Homo sapiens: one gene and its partners. The protein of the gene in region 1 interacts with the protein of each later gene in a biochemical or structural test. Each region holds a gene or a part of one and is shown on either strand. Other genes may lie near its edges.

Region 1 (4,954 bases):
TAAGCTTATTTCTTGGTTTAAATGAAATCTGTTTCTTGGTTCAGATGAAATTTTATACTGAGAAAATACCTTCTCTAGCTTCATTTCCAAGTCAACTCCTCCCCCAACCCCAAACTCCCAAATGCCAGTTTAAGTCCAAGGTTGAGTTTAGAGTCGTTATGAAGTCAAATGTGTTCCTCCATCCAGTTGTCCAAAACATTTATTGACTACTACAGTAGGAACAAGAAATGATCCCTCAATGTAAAGGAGCTCTATAACATTTATTTATGAATCAATGAATGAATTAGTCTGGCCCTGTTGCCCAGGCTGGAGCGCAGTGGTGCGATCTCAGCTTGCTACAACCTCCACCTCCCAGGCTCAAGTGATTCTCATGCCTCAGCCTCCTGAGTAGCTGGGATTACAGGTATGTATTTTTAGTAGAGATGGGGTATTGCCATGTTGGCCAGGCTGTTCTTGAACTCCTGACCTCAAGTGATCTGCCCACCTCACCTTCTCAAAGTGCTGGGATTACAGGTGTGAGCCACTGCGCCCAGCCTGAAATTTCTTTTAAATTTAGTTCCTCTGGGTAATTAAGTCCCTGTATGCAATTCAAGTTTCTTATAGTCAAGAGTTTTTTCGATTATTAAATTGTTCACTTGATCAGTAACTAATTGCTATTATCTGTCCAGTTTCACAACCTTATTGCCAAACTATTTCTAGCTTAAAAATAAGTATTTCAGGCCAGACGCGATGGCTCACACCTGTAATCCCAGCACTTTGGGAGGCCGAGGCAGCTAGATCACGAGGTCAGGAGATTGAGACCATCCTGGCTAACATGGTGAAACCCTGTCTCCACTAAAACTGCAAAAAATTAGCCAGGTGTGGTGGCAGGCGCCTGTAGTCCCAGCTACTCGGGAGGCTGACGCAGGAGAATGGCATGAACCCAGGAGATGGAGCTTACAGCGAGCCGAGATCGCGCCACTGCACTCCAGCCTGGGTGACAAAGTGAGACTCTGTCTCAAAAAATAAAAATAAAAACAAAAATAAGTATTTCACAAATTTTCAAATATATCCAAAATGTGAAATGATTATGTTTTACATTTTTTACTTTTTTTTTTTTTTTTTTTTTTTTTTTGAGACAGTCTCATTCTGTCGCCCAGGCTGGAGTGCAGTGGCACAATCTTGGTTCACTGCAACCTCCGCCTCCCGGGTTCAAGCGATTCTCCTGCCTTAGCCTTCCGAGTAGCTGGGACTACAGGCGCGCGCTACTACACCCGGCTAATTTTTATATTTTTAGTAGAGACAGGGTTTCACCATGTTTGCCAGGCTGGTCTTGAACTCCTGTCCTCAGGTGATCCACCCACCTTGGCCTCCCAAAGTGCTGGGATTACAGGCGTGAGCCACTGAGCCCGGCCCATTTTTTACTTTTATCTGCTATAAAATTTGAATTTTGTTATGACATAGCCTATCTTAGTTGATGAATATATTAACCACTTTCAGGTTGGAATTTTTTTTTTTTTATTACCTCTTCCAGGCATATAGCCACATGCTATCATCAGTGGAAAAGCTACATTCCTGACTGCTCTCATTTTGAATTAGAATTTGAAGTCTAATATAAATAAGTGGGTTACTTTTCATATTTCTGATTCCTAAGGCTGGCTGAGATTAATTTACCTTCAAATTTAAAAATATACCTACTATAAAAATTTTAATTAAACTCTTTGTAACTATTTTATAGTAGAACATCAACATTTTCTGGATAGGTAAAAGCTTTTATATTACATTTTTATTTTGCAAGAAAATAAATTATACAACTTAAAAAATAAAATCCAAAAATTAAGCAGTTCATCAAAATATTTCAGCCTACTGCATACAGAAACTGCTACCACTTAAAATTGTACAGCATTATCATCTCAGTATGTAGTGGCACACATTCAAAATCGTATAGACCATATGAGGATAGATTACAACTTAGAAACTAAAATAAATTTGTTCAACACTCCAGACAACATATAGTGTAGATGACAGGAAAGCTCTCATGTAATGTTTATTTCACAAACATGACCTTGGAAGAATTCATAAGACAGCATCCCAGTCACTTACATGAGAACAGAAAAACCAGCTTGAGTTTAAGATAGCAAATCTTTCTGTAAAACTAGCAAATCTTTCACCCAGACTGAAGTTTTAAAATTTGCCCTTTGAGCAGTGCTAGAGACATCTTACTGCAAATAATGCAAAATACTTTTTAACTACTCAGGTCATATTTTCTATTAAATTTAATAAAAAGTAAAAGAAAGAAAGCTAACATTTCATTTTTGGAAGGTTTAACATTTATGCACAAAATAAGAGCAAGAGACTTAAATAAAAAAGTTGACAGAACTCAGGGACCCCTCCAATAAATGTAAAAATTGGAAGACTTCAGAATTTATTTCAAGATCCTCATTTAATCATTGGAATAGTAATATTCTAATATTTATCTCATTGTGACCATCAAAATTTTTCTATATTTTTACTTCTTAAACTCTGTCTTATGTCTACTTACTCCGGCAACGAGATGGCAACACAAGTTAACATTTTCCAGATGGGATGTCTCTGTCTTTAAACTAGAAGATGGGTATTCAGAGGTTAAGATAGCCTCTGAAGTGTCTTATTGCCATACCACTAATTTTTAAAAATTAAATTTTTTTTTTTTTTTTGGAGGGGGAGGCTGGATTTTCTTTTCACTTAACTGCAGGTTATATCCCTGCTCGGCACCAATTTTAAGTGTACGCTGGAGAGAAGAGACCTGAATAAAGGATGCCAACTGTGATTCCAGACCTTTACAAACTGCTGGTAAGATTTTTTTTTTCATTTTTTTTTAAATTAGCAAATCTGTTGTTAAATTACTTAAAGAAAATTTAACAATGGCATAGGCACCTTGTCAACTAAATGATTTTCATAAACACCAAAAAGTAGTTAAAACTTTTGTATACATAACCAAAAAAAAAAAAAAAAGAAAACTGTACATTTACAGTATTTGCTGCTGTTCATTCCCCAAAATACAATTAGGACATAATTGGCTATTAAAAATTTATAAAATTTAATAAAAAACTTTGCTATGAATGTAGTGTTACCCACTTTTGCATTAAATTCACCTTCATAAATCAAAACATCATGACTCTCATTCTTAAATTAAATGACCCAAAATTAGAAGTTCCAAAAAAGTTCTGAGAACAATTATGGTTTAAAACAACAAACCTAAATTTTTAAAATGGACGGCAATTTTTCCTGTTTCCTCCTTTGGCATTCTTGTATTGGGACAAGCAAATACGCCAATGCTGAATTATCTGTTAAACATAAGGGCCACAATTACTACAAAATTATTTCTTCTAAATTCCAAATATACCCATTATGAACAGTCACCTAATTAGAGAAAACTGTACGTATTAATTTTAGTTTAATTCTTCACAATATGCTCGGTCTAATAATTGACATTTGCTACCTTAAAGTGTAAAATTTTAAACAAAATTCCAATTTCCTATAAGTTTCAGAACAGGCATTTGGCTATACTCAGCAAAACTCTAAATGTTTTAAAGTTGCTTTCCTTCCATTCAGCAGGCAGTTCACAAAGCCTCTTCGGATGGGGACAGATCCTACGAAATGCTCTTGAAAGCACTCCACTGTAACATAATACTGTATGCCTTTCTGTACTCCATTTCCTACTATCTTCAAAAACCATACTTTAAAAATATTACTTAACATCAAATAAGATATAAAATAATTTGCAAGAAAATTTGAAACGTGCACCACAATGAATAAAAATCCACGTTGAGCCATTCTTTCCTCAAGGGGAATCAATTTTCTCTTTCAAGTTGTTCACGTCCTCAAGTCCTAAAATTTCCACTACTCTGGGTATTCAGTTGCCAGCAACTAGTTAAGTTGCTACTTTGGATAGACTGAAAGGAACATGGTAAATGTTGCCTTCTGACGATTTAAAAAATGTTTATTTTTAAAATATATAAATATATATGTACATATATTTGGCAAGTTTACTGCTCGTATTAAGAGTGCAACAATTTTGCTTCTGTTTTTCAGGTCTTATGTTGTGGTTTTTCTCTTACCCCTAGGTGACTGATTCAAACCTGAGGCTACAAATCCCTAATCATGAGACCTTAAAATACCAAAATACTTCTATGCTACAGATTAAGAGATCAGTTACATAACTATATCAGAGCAGGAGATTTCTGTGTTGTTTTTAATAAATTCAGATATGGCATAATAAATATTAGGTATATAAACATTAAGTGTGTTAGTAAACACACAATATGTTTAGTAAACACACTTAATATGTTTGTTTTGCTATTTTGGCTCTGCAATCATAATGACCTACCTATCTCCATAAATTTTTTAAACTATTGAAGCAACAATTAATATAAGCTTCATTTTTCAAAACAAGCTTTCCAGCCATATTTAAAAAAAAAAAAACTCCTCATCATTTAACAACAACTAAAATAGCAGTCTCCTGCTTAAAGAAAACCAACATTTGAAAGTTGAAAATATTTAATACCATTTTTAGGTCACCATTAAAATCCAGTTATTATACTGAGCAATGTTTGAACAATTTGATACTATTAAATACTTAACTTCTCACCTACATCTGCCGTTTCCCAATGTTGCATTGACCAGCTCACTCTTTTCATCAAAAGAAACCAAGAGTGCTATTTCTAGTTTTAATTGCATTTTTTAAAAACAAAAGATAACAGCATTTTTCAGTGCATGAATATCTGAAGATCCTTCCTTGTGCAAGTACATTTTTTAAGAGAGGAAAAAAGAGAAAAAAGCAACAAGAACCCCACCCTCACCCTTCCCAACTGTATTTCTCCTGGTGGGTACAAATCAAATTCACTTTTAAAAGTTGATAATGGGCTCTTCATGAATGCAAGTTTCTCCACAAAACAGCATGCTGTCAAAGAGTGTGCAACATGAAGGGAATGCC
Region 2 (5,102 bases), on another chromosome or scaffold:
TTCATGGTGGCACGCGGACCGTCTCTTTTCTGACACAGGCTGCGAAGCGCCTCCTGGTAATCTGGGTCCCAGAAGTAGTAGAGGCGGGCAACAAAGATGGTCAGGGTAACCTTCGGGTCCTCGGCCAGGAACGTGGCCATATCCCTTGTACACTTTGTGCAGGGGCTCCAGGATATGTACCAGGTGACCTCATACTCCTGGTCACGATGCAGCTTCCTCCACTTGCTGAACCAGTGGAAGAATCTCATCTCTGGGTGGTACTTAAGTTCGGAATACACCTGGGAGAGGAGCAGGGTCAGGGCAAGCTCTGAGAGGGGGAGCAGGAGGAGAGCAGGGGTGGGGCAGGGGGAGGAGGGGCCAGGACAGGAGTCCAGGAGATCTTGCCATTGAAGCTCCTTTCCTCCATCCCCCTGTTCGGTTTGAGTGTTTGTCTGCTCCAAAGCTCATGTTCAGTATTAATTGCTATGGTAATGGCCTTAAGAGGTGGCACCTACAAGCAGCTATGAGGCTGTGGGAACTGCACCTTTGTGGGTGCCACTGCTGTGGTTATTCAAGGGCGACTTCAGCCCCTCTTTCTGTCTCTTGCCCTCTAGCTGGGGGGGCAGTATGTCAGACTAAACTGCTTCCTCTTGCCCCCATGTCACGGAGCAGCAGTGACTCGACATCCCAGGCCACTCTGTCTGGAGCATCCCCTGAGCTTCTGGCAACAACCTTCACCCCCACGTGACTGTGCAGCTCGCAGGCCCTGGAAAGTTGCTGGTGCATTGACAGGGGACTTCCCAGAGTCCAGAACTCGAGCCCATACATTTCTGTTCATTGTAAATGTCCCCATCTCAGTCCTGCTGTTGAAGCATCACAAGGTGCACCAAGACACGTGCTTCCCTGAGTTTGGAAGTTTTCCCAGCCCTGTTCATGGCCTCGTGTGTGAATTCTAGCATCCATTCTCCCAGGCATCCATTCACCAGACATCCTCAGCCCCTACTGTGGCCTGGCCCTCTAGGGTCTGCCTTGTTCCCTGCCTGCAGTCAGTGGGGAGCCCACTGGACCTGCACTGTCCATGTCGGGGGGGGTGACATGGCCAAGGGACTACTGAGTACTTGAAATGGGGCTCTGATTAGAGACCTGGGCACCTGAAAAATACACCACTCATTTCTTTTTTTTTTTTTGAGATGGAGTTTCGCTCTTGTTGCCCAGGCTGGAATGCAAGGATGCAATCTTGGCTCACTACAACCTCTGCCTCATGGGATCAAGCGGTTCTCCTGCCTCAGCCTCCCGAGTAGCTGGGATTACAGGTGACTGCCACCATGCCTGGCTAATTTTTTTTTTTTTTGTATTTTTAGTAGAGATGGGATTTCACCATGTTGCCCAGGCCGGTTTTGAATATCTAACTTCAGGTGATCTGCCCGCCTTGGCCTCCCAAAGTGCTGGGATTAGAGGTGCGAGCCACCCACTGTACGTGACCCACGCAGCTCATTTCAAAGACTCGGTGTGACAAGAAAAAGAAACTTCATTATCTTGTCAAGAATTTTATGTTAATTAATGTTGAAGTAATATGTTAGCCACATTGGATTAATTAAATATTAAAATTAGGCCGGCGCTGTGGCTCACACCTGTAATCCCAACACTTTGGGAGGCCGAGGCAGGTGGATCACCTGAGGTCAGAAGTTCGAGACCAGCCTGGTGAATATGGTGAAACCCCATCTGTACTAAAAATACAAAAAAAAAATCAGCTGGGCGTGGTGGTGGGCACCTGTAATCGCAGCTACTTGCGAGTCTGAGGCGACAGCATCGCTTGAACCCAGGAGGCAGAGGTTGCTGTGAGCCGAGATCGCGTCATTGCACTCCAGCCTGAGCAACAAGAGTGAAACTCTGTCTCAAAAAAAAAAAAGAAAAAAGAAAAGAAAAGAAAAACGGAAACACAAGGCCTTTTGTGCAGAGGCAAACCCCCTCCACGATCCGATCCCAGGACGGTCCAGCAGGAAGGTCAGGGCCACGGACTTGGAAAGTGTGGGAGAGAAGGACACACTGGATAGCCCGCCGCCGGGCACTTCACTTATCAGTGCGTGGTTTGCTTTCCCAGCTGGCTTAGCTCCTGCCTGCAAAGTGATTGGAGTCCGGGTGGTACCTGGCCTCGAAAGATCTTTGCGTCCAAAGGGGGCCTTGAGGGACCCTTTGTTTTCACTTCGTAGCACAGCCAGACGGTATTCCGACGAGAAAGGATGGGTCTATTATAAAAGTTGTAGGAGAATGTGTCTCGATACATTCGCTCCACTGTGTTTCTGAAGACACAAGAGAGAAACCAGCCAATGTAGAGAGCACTCCTGGGGGCCCTCCGGGCTGATGTCCACTAAACACAGCCCCCTGGACGGCTCTAGGCCTCCCCCATCCCTCCCCTCCCCTGAGAATTTCGGCGGAGACTGTAGTGAGCCAAGATCGCGCCACTACACTCCAGCCTGGGCGACAAGAGCGAAATTCCGTCTCAAAAAAAAAGAGAGAGAGAGACAGAATAAAACTCTTCACCCCAAAATAACAGCTTTTAACCTTTCAGCTCAGTTCCTTCCTGACATTTCACCTCTGTATATTATTATTGTTAAATCATGGTAGAACCGAATTCTGAGGCCCAGGCCAGTCTTCTAAGTGCTGCGCGGGGGTGAGCTCATGTGAGGCTGCCCTAGGCTGGCAGGGGCCATTCCCGTCTTACAGAGGAGGGGCCAGACGCGCAGAGAGGCGGGGTAACCTGCCCAGGCCACAGAGCTGGGGACAAATGGAGTGGGGGCCCCTTTCCAGGCCAGCCCTGTCCAGTCTCTGTATCACTGGCCCTGCAGGAGGCAGCCATTGGGGACCGGGCTCTCTTCTTACTAAATTTTAAAATAACAACATTCCTCCTGATCATTGAGTTTTTTTCCCATATATTCCATGTTTTTTCTTTTGTTTTTGTTTTTTTTTCTTTCAAGACGAAGTTTTGCTCTTGTTGCCCAGGCTGGAGTGCAATGGGGCGACCTCAGCTCACTGCAAACTCCGCCTCCTGGGTTCAATGGATTCTCCTGTCTCAGACTCCCAAGTAGCTGCGATTACAGGCGCCCGCCACCACACCCAGCTAATTTTGCATTTTTAGTAGAGACAGGGTTTATCCATGCTGGTCAGGCTGGTCTTGAACTCCTGACCGCAGGCGATCCGCCCACCTCAGCCTCCCAAAGTGCTGGGATGACAGGTGTGAGCCACCGCACCCGGCCACTATATTCCATGTTACTGGTGTCATTTATAAACAGTGAATGCTGATAGTGGAGGAGGAGCGTGTGTTTGGGGTCATCTGCATCCTCCTCTGCCCACAGTGGAGACATCCTTGGAAGACATGATTTATCCTGTGCTTCAGAGACCATTCCCTCCCCACACCCTCTCCTAAGACTTGGTATTTAAGCAAAGTAAATCTTACAGAAAATCCATCAAAGCCCTGTGAACAAAATTCCACCTTGCTCTACTCATCCTTTGGTTCAATTCTCCCAGTTCCAGAGTTCAGGAATGGCGGGAAGCACACAGAGGGAGCACCCTCCCAGGGCCGGGAGCACCACCCCAGCCATGACTTTCAGGGGAGAGTCTCAGCAGGGGACCTGGGCTGGGACAGATGGGGGAGGCGGCCCATTCAGAAGCAGCAGTGGGGCGACAACACAGCAGGGCAAGGAGCCTGGCTGGGAGTAGGGGGTGCAGGGGAGTCAGAGGGGAGGGAGCCCAGGGCTGGGGCTGGGGCAGGGGAAGGCCAGGGCTGACGCCCAGCAGAGCCACCAGGCAAGAAGGGGCAGCAGAGGGGCCCAGTGGGTAGAGCGGGCAGCGGTACCTGAAGTGAGGCTTCATCCTTGGCCGGCTAGTCCCGACTAAGATCTTTGTCTGGAGCACCAGGGTTTCACTTTCTGCTCCAAGCTTCTGGTTTTAGGACAGCCCTCCCTAAAGTGACCTCCCAGGGCCTCGTAGTCATGGCCCCTCCCGCTTCCTGCTCAGGCGCTGGTGTAGGAGGCCCTGGGACGCTTTATCTTCCTCAGTCTCTCACCCTCTTTCTGGTTTTCTCTGGGGCCCTCCCCCTGGCAGAGGGACCTCTGATAAAGACAGGCCGCTCTGTGCGGCAGGACCCAAGGCAATTGCAAAGGGAAAGAGAAAGTCATTGCAGCCAGCGCCCGGGAGGTGGGTCCACACCAGGCTGAGCCAGCAGAGCACAAGCCCCTCCCCTGGTGGTCCCGCCCAGCTGGAGCCTCCTCTCCACCATCAAGACAGACAGGCTGATGCCTCCGCAGGGACTCCCGGATCCTGCCCTCGGGGATCATCCCAGAGACGGCCCCCACCCAGCGGCCATGGGGACAGGGAGGGAGAGTAAATGGCCAGGCGTCTGCCTCCCCCCAGGCCGTCACCCTCGGAGGCCACCGTGGGAGGGAGGGACAGCAGGTGGGTGTGGGCCTCAGATGTCCCACCGGGATGCCATGCGCGCCCCCACACTGAGCTCTTTCCTTCCTGCTTCTCCTTCTTCCCCATCTCCTGCCCGGAGATCCTCCGTGGTGGGCTGAACTTTTGCCCTCTCTTGTCCCCATGTTATGGAAGGGCAGCGGCTGGTGTCCCAGGCCAGCCTGTCTGGAGCCTCCCTGCGCGTCTCACAGCTCCCTTCCCCTGGTAGCGTGTTCCCATGGCGTGGTGACCTACAAATTACACAAGGGATGCATTTGCAAATGACACTTTATTTCTTGTTAAGGGTGACAGCCTGCAAGGTAGCCATCCAGCAGCCTGGGAAGAGCAGCCTCTGGTTAACACCAGAGACAGACATTTAGAAGCAGGAGGGGTTGGGGCAGGAGCTTTATGCTGAAGGGGTTAGCTAAACATACATATTGAACAGGCTACAGGAGGAGCTATGAATATTCATGTGGGTGGCTGCACTCCATGCTTATTGAACAAACATGCGTGTAACATATGATCCCAGGCGGGCACAGTGGCTCACACCTGTAATCCCAGCATTTTGGGAGGCCGAGGCAGGTGGATCATCTGAGGTCAGTGTCAGGCCGCTGAGCCAGAGCTAAGCCATTGTGACCCCTGTGAACTGCACATATACATCCAGATGGCCTGCA
Region 3 (4,636 bases), on another chromosome or scaffold:
CCACACCCAGCCATCTCTATAATTCTGTAATTTCAAGAGTATTATATAAACAGAATCATGCAGTATATGACCTTTTGAGACTGGCTTTTTTTTTTTAGTCTAATAGTTGTGTAACAGTATCGCTCATGGTGGTCTTAGTTTGATGTGAAACATCTTTTCATGTGCTTTTCGTCATCCTTTTTAGTAAAATATCTCTTCCTATCTTTTGTCTATTTTCTAATTGAATTTTTTTTTGTTTTACTGTTGAGTTTTTAGAGTTCATTATATACTCTAGATATGAGTCCTCCATCAGATGCTTTACAAGTATTTTCTCCAGTCTGTGGCTTTTCTTCATCCGTTTAAGAGGGTCTTTCACACAGCAAGTTTTTAATTTTGATGAAGTTCAGTGTATCAATTTTTTCCTTTTATGGCTCATGCTTTTACAAAAAATTATTTTAATTTTTTAGAGATGATGTCTCACTACATTGCCCAGGCTGGAATGCAGTGGCTATTCACAGTATGACCACAGCCTACTATAGCTTCAAACTCCTAGTCTCAAGCAATCCTCCCACCTTAGCCTCCCAAGCAGCCAGGACTCTGTAGTGGTATGATAAAAGCTCACTGCTTCCTCAGTGATCTGCACCACCATACCCCACCTTTTACAGGTCTTGCTTTTGACGTGGCCTAAGCACTCTCCACCAAACCCTAAAGTTCTATCGTTTTATGGTTTTTTGTGTTTTTTTTTGTTTTTTTGAGATGGAGCCTTGCTCTGTCGCCCAGGCTGGGGTGCAGTAGCGCAATTTCAGCTCACTGCAACCTCAGCCTCCTAGGGTCAAGCGATTCTCCCACCTCAGCCTCCTGAGTAGCTGGGAGCCACTGTGCCCGGCTAATTTTTGTATTCTTAGTAGAGACGGGGTTTCACCATGTTGGCCAGGCTGGTCTCGAACTCCTGACCTCAAGTGATCCACCCACCTCGGCCTCCCAAAGTGCTGGGATTACAGGCATGAGCCACCACGCCTGGCTCATTTTATATTTTATATTTACACCTATAATCCATTTTGAGTTAATTTTGTATGTTTAGGTCAAAATTCATCTTTTAACTATGGATATGAAATTGCTCCAGTACGATTTGTTGAAGACTATGCTTCTTCCATTGGAACTGTTTTGCACCTTTATCAAAAACAAATTGGCCATACTTATATGGGGCTATTTCTGGCTTCCCTATTCTGTTCTAGTCATCTATATATCCCTCTGGTAACGCCACTGAGTCTGGATTACTATAGCTATATAAGTCTAGAATTTGGATAGTGATTCCTCCCACTTTCTTTTTCAGATTTGTAGTAGGTATTCCTTTGCTTTTCTATATAAAATTTTAGAAGATCGTCTATATCGACAATTTTGCTGGGATTTTAATAGAAACTATGGTATATATGTATACAAATTTAGGGAGAAATGACATCTTTACTATATTTAATCTTCCAATCTTTGAAGATGGACTATCTCTCCATTTATTTAGATTTTCTTTGGTTTCTTTCATCAGCATTTTGTAGTTTTTCACTATATAAATCTCTTACTTATCTTGTAGTTTACATCTAAGTATTTATTTTTCTTTCTAAGCAGTTGTAAATGGCATTGTATTTTACATTAACTTTCACAAGTTCACCGGTATGTTGATTTTGTATTCTGTGGGACTTTCTACATAGAAATCACATCTTCTGACTTTCTATAAAATGCCAAAAGTTCTCCAGATCTAAATTCAAACTACAGTGTAAATACTCCTTTTTAAAAACATATTTCTTGTAAAAATAAATTTACTGTGATGTACCTTCCATTTGGCTAATACTATATTGACTGTCTACTCTGTCTGCTACTATAAAGAAACAAAGATTAATTGGATCCAGCCTAGGAATTTACACTCTAGTAAAGGAGATATGTAATTGATACTGAAATTAAGGGCAATAATGCAAAATAAAGTAGATGATGAAACAGGCTTTATAAACTTAAGTTAAAAATCAGGGCCCAAAAAATATTTATATAACCATACAGAAAAGACTGGAAGAATAGATAGCAAAATGTTACCAGCAGTTATCTCAGTAATAAAGTTACTACTGCTGACTTTTTTTCCCTCTTGCTTATCTGTATTCTCTGTTAAATATCTCTTATAATAAAGGAAAAAAGCTTTTAAAAATTAAGTAATTTTCTTTTTGTCAAAAGGATACGGAACTACATTGCAATTAGGAACTCTGTCATTTAGAAATTCTGCAGCAACTTCAGCCTTAGGTCTTCCAATATCTTTAGGCCTACAGGAAAAATATTTAAATTATAATTCATATTATAAATCTATATGATCTACATAACTTATTTTCAAACATAAAAGTAAATTCACAGTAAGTTTACTTATAGGAAATTTAGAAGGAATATTTTTGCCTAAGTATTTTGATTTCAGTAATAACTTTTGGTAAACGGTCATTTAACCTTAAATGTCAACCCTTGCTAATGGTCCAAATTAACATAAGTCTAATTAAGTATTGCTTTAATTAAGAGAAAATCTGAACAGTGTTCTTCCTCCCAGATAAAGCATAATAATGCTATGATTCCTGGCCACTTTCCACTGTAAAAAATTATCCCACTCTTAGAGCTCAGAACCTTATGGTGTTACTCCACAGGTCTTGGCTGAAATATACACAATAAGATTCATCCTTGGGATGCAAGAACCTTCATTTAACCCCTTCTTCCTGTGTGTGCTGATTAAGCAGCAAATTTTGTGTCCCCTAAGAAGCTGCATGAAAAAGAAAAAAAAAGAAAAAAAAAATTTCACTGGACCGTATATAAAATGGAAAAAAAAAAAAAAAAGAGGCTGTAACCACGTTTTTTTCTTTTTTCTTTTTGAGACGGAGTCTCACTCACTCTGTCACCCAGGCTGGAGTGCAGTGGTGCGATCTCGGCTCACTGCAACCTCCGCCTCCCAGGTTCAAGCAATTCTCATGCCTCAGTCTCTAGGGAGGTGAGATTACAGGTGCCTGCCACCACAACCAGCTAGTTTTTGTATTTTTAGTTTTGCCATGTTGGTCAGGCTGGTCTCGAACTCCTGACCTCAGGTGATCTGCCCGCCTCAGCCTCCCAAAATGCTGGGATTACAGGCATGAGCCACCATGCCCGGCACCAAGTTTTTAAAGAAAGAATAATACCAAAAGTGTCAGCTAAAATTGCAAATGTTACTATTACATCACAGAAGCTGAATATATAAGGCCTCAAAAGGTCACTCTTAAAACAATAACCACACATATAGATAGGAAAGGATATGAATTTCCTCCTCTAAGTTCTATACAAATGGTATTTTCTTTCCTAATATTTCCATATTCTCCTCAGAGAAATCACTCCATGTATATAATAAGAACATTATTACTTTTTTCGTAACATATTTGCTACATACACGTCTATCATACCCACTAGACTATTATTTGGATGAAAGTGACCATGTTCTTACTCTCTTCATATTCCTTCCTACCTAGCACACAGTAAATACTTTTAAAATAAATGAAAATAATAAATCGTGTGCTTATTAGAAAAAAATCTGAAATTTCAAAGAAAAACACTTTAGCATGTCAATTTTTCTTTTCTTTTTTTTTGTTTGTTTGAGACAGAGTCTCGCTCTGTCACCCACGCTGGAGTGCAGTGGCACAATCTCGGCTCACTATAACCTCTGCCTCCCAGATTCAAACAATTCTCCTGTCTCAGCCTCCAGAGTGCTGGGACTACGGGCATGAGTCACTACGCCTGGCTAATTTTTGTATTTTTAGTAGACACAGGGTTTCACCGTGTTGGCCGGGCTGGTCTCGAACTTCTGACCTCAAGTGATCCGCCCACCTTAGCCTCCCAATGTGCTGTGATTACAGGCATGAGCCACCATGCCAGGCCAATTTTTTTTCTCTCCAATAAAGCACTGTTCTTTTTTGATTCAAAACTTTTGGTAAATGTTTTATCTTCACTTTGTACTAACTTACATAAAAAAGGCCCTGTTATAAATCAAAGAACTTAATTTCAGTATTGCATTCAATGGCTCCACACACAGAAAGCTCTTTTGGTTTGTAAAAGGGATAAAGTAGACTTCTAAGATTATTTTAAGTAATATATTCTATGTGCTTTTATGGCACGGCCCAAACAAAAGAACTCCTAGATGGTTTCTGGGAACTGTTTGTTAATTTACCATTCCAGGATGAAACAATCAGATTGCTCCACCTCAATAAAATGGCCTTTCACACACATCATCCTTGCAGGACACTCTGCCCAAATTATTTAACCTTGAACACAAGAACCTACCCTGAGGTTGCTGAGATTAAATGGAATAATATGGATAGTTTAGAAGTACTTGCTACATATCGTTATTACCATCTTCAACCATTTTAGCCACAAATTAAAGGGTATGGCCTGTATCAATAACAAATCAATTCAGTGGTATCTTTTTCAGAGAATTCACAACTCAAAATTTGACAAGCTGGACAGAGCCCACAAACTTTGCTATAGAGAAGGGAAATTTCAAAGGTTAAAAAATAAACAAAAAATAAAGCTTAAAAGTTAAACATTAAGGGTCACACTGCAATTACAACACTTCATTAACTTATTTTAATCCATACTTCAGTCCCATTAAGATCTTCCA
Region 4 (4,636 bases), 5.0 Mb from region 1:
AACAAATTATCTGTTACAGGCCTGCTATGTGTTAGTGCTGTGTACTGGGATGAGGGTCAGGACTGAAGATTGTGGGTAGACTAAAAATTTGTTGCCAATTTAGGCTGATATTTCTTTAAATATATATTCGGTATATATTTACTGGGAGGGAAGAACTCATTTACTATTAATAAAACGTGTAAACAAAGATTCATTTATTTACATCTATTGGCTAAAGTAGTATTCTGGAAAATAAAAGGTACACAATAAAACATTTTTGTATTTGATATTGTGGAAAACACAAAGTACATAATAAAACATTTCTATTCAATATTCTCTTTTTGAAATTTTTCTGAACTAACATTTTCTGAAACTTTTGGGGAGACATAGTAAAAGATTTAAACCCCTCAGTTATAATTGTACAACACATTTACTTTTTAACAATTATCATTTAGCCATCCACTTCTACTAGAGATGCAATAGTAAGAAAATAAATAGACTGATATTAATACAGTGTGATAAATACTATATTCAGAAGATACACTGTGAGAGTTCATAGGAGGGATATATAACCCAGCTTTTAAAGTGTCATGGGAGTTTTCTAGAGGAGCTAACTTAACCTCAGCTAAATCTTGTAACTGGTGGATGAAGAGCCCTAGGCCCAGGATGGGGTTGTGTTTTAGAGGCGAAAGTCAAAGCCAGCCAGAGATGGGGCTGAAGAGTTAAGCAAATATATGCAAAAGAACACTTATACTATCTCATAAATATATATGGAATTTTTTTCCCCTTAGAATAGTTTTGTTTTTTTGGAGTTATTGATTTTAAAGCTTTTTTCTTTTCCTTTTCCTTTTTTTTAACCTGCTTCACTTTTTTTTCTCCTTCTTTTAATCACTATCATTCTCAAAATGTTTGTTTAAAATGGAAGTGTATATGTAGCTATTGCCTTATATTTAGTGCTCATCCACATTAAGGTCTAAAGTAGTATACTTTGAACTTGAGGTATAAGTTTAGGCTAATTGTATGGAATGTGAGACTATTTTGAAAGGGGGGCAGTAACTTTACTGTTGGAATCAGCTGAGTGATCCCAAAGTACAATTTTAAAATTGTTTAGTAACAGAACAGATTCTTTCTAGACCAGAAATAAATGCTATTACTGGCATCCCAAGACAACCACTAACCCAATTTAAATGAAGGGAATTCATTTCTTACTGACCTCCATTTAAAATGTTGACCCATTATCCCAAATGCCAGTTTTACTGGTATGAATGATATATAATCAAAAGGTCACCCATCTTATTTCACTTATAAAGGTTACTAGATACAATAGAAATAGAAAATATTTGCCTCAACTAGGAACTTTCCTAGGTAGTGTAAGATTCTAATTAAACATTTGTTTACTATATTAGCATTTTTAATAGCCAACATAATAATTGCATTATTCCAGGAATTGTCCCAGGTATATTATTTTTTCTTGTGACTGTTCTATTAAGTAGGTAGTATTATCACCACCTCCCACTACGACTTTATTTTTTGAGACAGGGTCTCACTGTGTCGCCCACGCTGGAGCGCAGTGCTGTGATCATGGCTCACTGCAGCCTTGAGCTCCTGGGCTCAGGCCATCCTCCCACCTCAGCCTTTCTAGTAGGTGGGAATATAGGCATGTGCCACCACGCCTGGCTAATTTTTTAAATTTTTTGTAGAAATGGGGTTTCAGCCGGGTGTGGTGGCTCACGTCTGTAATCTCAGCACTTTGGGAGGCCAAGGTAGGCAGATCACGAGGTCAGGAGATCGAGACCATCCTGGTTAACATGGTGAAACACTCTCTCTACCAAAAACACAAACAATTAGCCGGGCGTGGTGGTGTGCGCCTGTAGTCCCAGCTACTTGGGAGGCTGGGGCAGGAGAATGGCGTGAACCCAGGAGGCGGAGCTCACAGTGAGCCGAGATAACACCACTGCACTCCAGCCTGGGTGACAGAGTGAGACTCTGCCTCAAAAAAAAAAAAAAAGAAAAAGAAAAAAAGAAATGGGGTTTCACGATGTTGCCCAAACTGGTCTCCAACTCCTGGGCTCAAGTGATCTAATTGCCTCAGCTTCCCAGAGTGGTGGGATTACAGGCATGAGCTGCTGTGCTTGGCCATACCCTCATTTTATAGATGAGAAAACTGAGACTTAGATTAATTAATTTGCCCAAGATCATATAGTGACAAGAGCCAGGATTCAAACCCAGGTCCTTCTGATTCTAAAGTCCATGCTTTTAACTACTATGCTTTTATGTATTTTTTATTTAAATTTTATAATGTTTATATATAGTTATAAACATTTTATTATAATAGATATTATTTTATGTTTATTTTTTATTTAAGCTAATTTTCACTTTTGCAAAGAAAATATTGGTACTCTTGGTTAATTTCTGTCATCCATTCAATAAATATTGAGCACTTGTTTTGAGTCAGGCACTGTGCTGAGTGCTGGATATATAGTGCTGAGCAAGTCAGACAAGATCCCTGCCTTTGGGGGACTTGCCTTCTGGTGAGGAAGACAGTCAGTAAACAGGTATGTAGGCAAGATAAGTACAGATTGTGGGGAGTTATAAGGATAATAAATATGGTGAGGTTCAGGAATAGAGAAGAAAGAAGGGTTAGATGGACTTTCAGATAGAGTGATTAGGGAAGGCCTCTCTGTGGAGACCACTTTGTGCAGAGACCTGATTAGGGAGGAACCATTTGTTTGCCAAATAAACAGTAACTGTTCTGTCTTGAAATGGGTATGTCCGTATTAAAATGAAGCCAATAATTTTGCCTACTGAGAATAATACATGTAAAGCCCTTAGCACAATACCTGGTATATAGTCAGAACTCAAATGTTATTATTATTAAAACAGTAATAGCATTACAGCATCAGATTTACTGGTTGTGTGTTTTTTACAGTGTTCCAAAATTAATGACTCTTACGTAGCTCATGTTGAAGGTGCTGTGTCACTGAGAATTTTTTTTTTTTCCCCCTAAGCATCTGTTATGGCTGGCATGGTATTAGGCCTTGCAGATATAGCTAGGAACATTCCTTTATGGTTATAAAGAAATCAGGAAATTGATGGTGTTTTTCTTTTAGTTTTGAAAATATCACTAAACTTGTTACTATGGTATTATGTGTGATAAGGCTGTTGGTTTTGTTCTTTCACAAGACCTCATTCTTGAGTGATATTTAAATTAATGATTCAGTAATATACTGGCCTATGGTAATTGAAAACATGGAAAGTGAAAGGGCAGTTTTAAAGTCTCATAGAGTCAAAAAATAAGGTTGGAATTGCATAGTCCTAATATAGTACCTAGCTGGTGGAGTAGAGTGAACTCATAGTATGAACAAAATCATTTCTATAGCTTCTTCAATTGAGTGGAAACCTAGTTGTCCAAAAGAGTTAATTAAATTTAGCTCCAGAGGTTTTACCCAGAGAGTAGTTTTATTAGAAAGATTGGAAGCAATGGTATTGGAAGGATTAACATTTTGCAGTCCGGGGAAAGCACATTAGTTACAGACCTCGCTTTAGACTTAGATCTGTTACTATTTACATCACTTTGGCAAAGTCAGTTAACATTTACAGACCTTATCTAAGTTATAAGGTATTATATCTCTATGTAATCTCATTTGACTTGCTTCTAACCAAATTTTAATTAGTAATCACCAAGTAATCCTCCAGTTTCTAGGGGGGCTATACTGATATTTCTTTTTTATTTTTTATATTTTTTGAGACAGAGTCTCGCTCTGTCACCTACGCTGGAGTGCAGTGGCGCAATCTCGGCTCACTGCAACCTCTGCCACCTAGGTTAAGTGATTCTCCTGCCTCAGCCTCCTGCGTAGCTGGGATTACAGGCACCTGCCACCACGTCTGGCTAATTTTTGTAGTTTTAGTAGAGACAGGGTTTCACCATCTTGGCCAGGCTGGTCTTGAAATCCTGACCTCGTAATCCATCTGCCTCGGCCTCCCAAAGTGCTGAGATTACAGGCGTGAGCCACTGCTCCTAGCTTATGCTGATGTTTCTAGACATCCTCTAAAGCTTTCTCTTTGAATCACTAATGGCAACTTTGAGAGCAAGTATGTTTTCTTGATGCTTTAGAAAAATTTACAATATATTTACATCGTGGCTTTTAAAAAAACCGTTTGTCTTTTCCCTTAATTTTTTATTTTTTATTTTTTTTTGAGACAGGGCCTTGCTCTCTCCCAGGCTGGAGTACAATGGCGTGATCATGGCTCATTGCAGCCTCAAACTCCTGGGCTCAAGCAATGCTCCCACCTCAGTCTCCTGAGTAGCTGGGACCACAGACTGGCACCACCACACAAGGCTATTTTTTTTTTCCCTAGAGATGGGGTCTCCCTGTGTTGTGCAGGTTTGTCTGGAACTCTTGGGCTCAAGTGATAATCCCACCTCGGCCTCCCAAAGTGCCAAGATTACAGGCATGAGCCACCGCGCCTGGGCCTCTTAAATTTTCAAATCTGATTTTTGTTTTCTTTCAATCATATATAAGAATACATACTCATTTATGCATTTTAACACCTTTATTGTATATGTATGCCTTTTAAGTTATAAAATTAACACATTCTCATTTAAACAATTCTCCAAATATGTAAAGGAAGAGAAAGTGCCCTATAATTAATCACC

Evidence for each region. Proteins that work in one complex are often made in the same cells at the same time.
Region 2: of the proteins of CUL5 (region 1) and APOBEC3G, one has a biochemical effect on the other in vitro, tested with the Homo sapiens proteins (one study listed by BioGRID).
Region 3: of the proteins of CUL5 (region 1) and UBA3, one has a biochemical effect on the other in vitro, tested with the Homo sapiens proteins (one study listed by BioGRID).
Region 4: the proteins of CUL5 (region 1) and DCUN1D5 form a complex in vitro, tested with the Homo sapiens proteins (one study listed by BioGRID).

The regions. Positions count from the first base shown.
Region 1 is NC_000011.10:108,104,558-108,109,511, reverse strand, and holds the end of CUL5 (cullin-5), read right to left. Parts: 3' UTR 3,306-4,954; coding exon of another isoform or gene 3,225-3,305; 3' UTR 1,751-3,224; downstream 1-1,750. UniProt on the Homo sapiens protein: Core component of multiple cullin-5-RING E3 ubiquitin-protein ligase complexes (ECS complexes, also named CRL5 complexes), which mediate the ubiquitination and subsequent proteasomal degradation of target proteins.
Region 2 is NC_000022.11:39,076,109-39,081,210, reverse strand, and holds the start of APOBEC3G (DNA dC->dU-editing enzyme APOBEC-3G), read right to left. Parts: upstream 3,937-5,102; 5' UTR 3,850-3,936; coding exon 3,833-3,849; intron 2,280-3,832; coding exon 2,126-2,279; intron 279-2,125; coding exon 1-278.
Region 3 is NC_000003.12:69,065,730-69,070,365, forward strand, and holds part of UBA3 (NEDD8-activating enzyme E1 catalytic subunit), read right to left. Parts: intron 2,280-4,636; coding exon 2,199-2,279; intron 1-2,198. UniProt on the Homo sapiens protein: Catalytic subunit of the dimeric UBA3-NAE1 E1 enzyme. E1 activates NEDD8 by first adenylating its C-terminal glycine residue with ATP, thereafter linking this residue to the side chain of the catalytic cysteine, yielding a NEDD8-UBA3 thioester and free AMP.
Region 4 is NC_000011.10:103,084,525-103,089,160, reverse strand, and holds part of DCUN1D5 (DCN1-like protein 5), read left to right. Parts: intron 1-4,636. UniProt on the Homo sapiens protein: Contributes to the neddylation of all cullins by transferring NEDD8 from N-terminally acetylated NEDD8-conjugating E2s enzyme to different cullin C-terminal domain-RBX complexes which is necessary for the activation of cullin-RING E3 ubiquitin ligases (CRLs).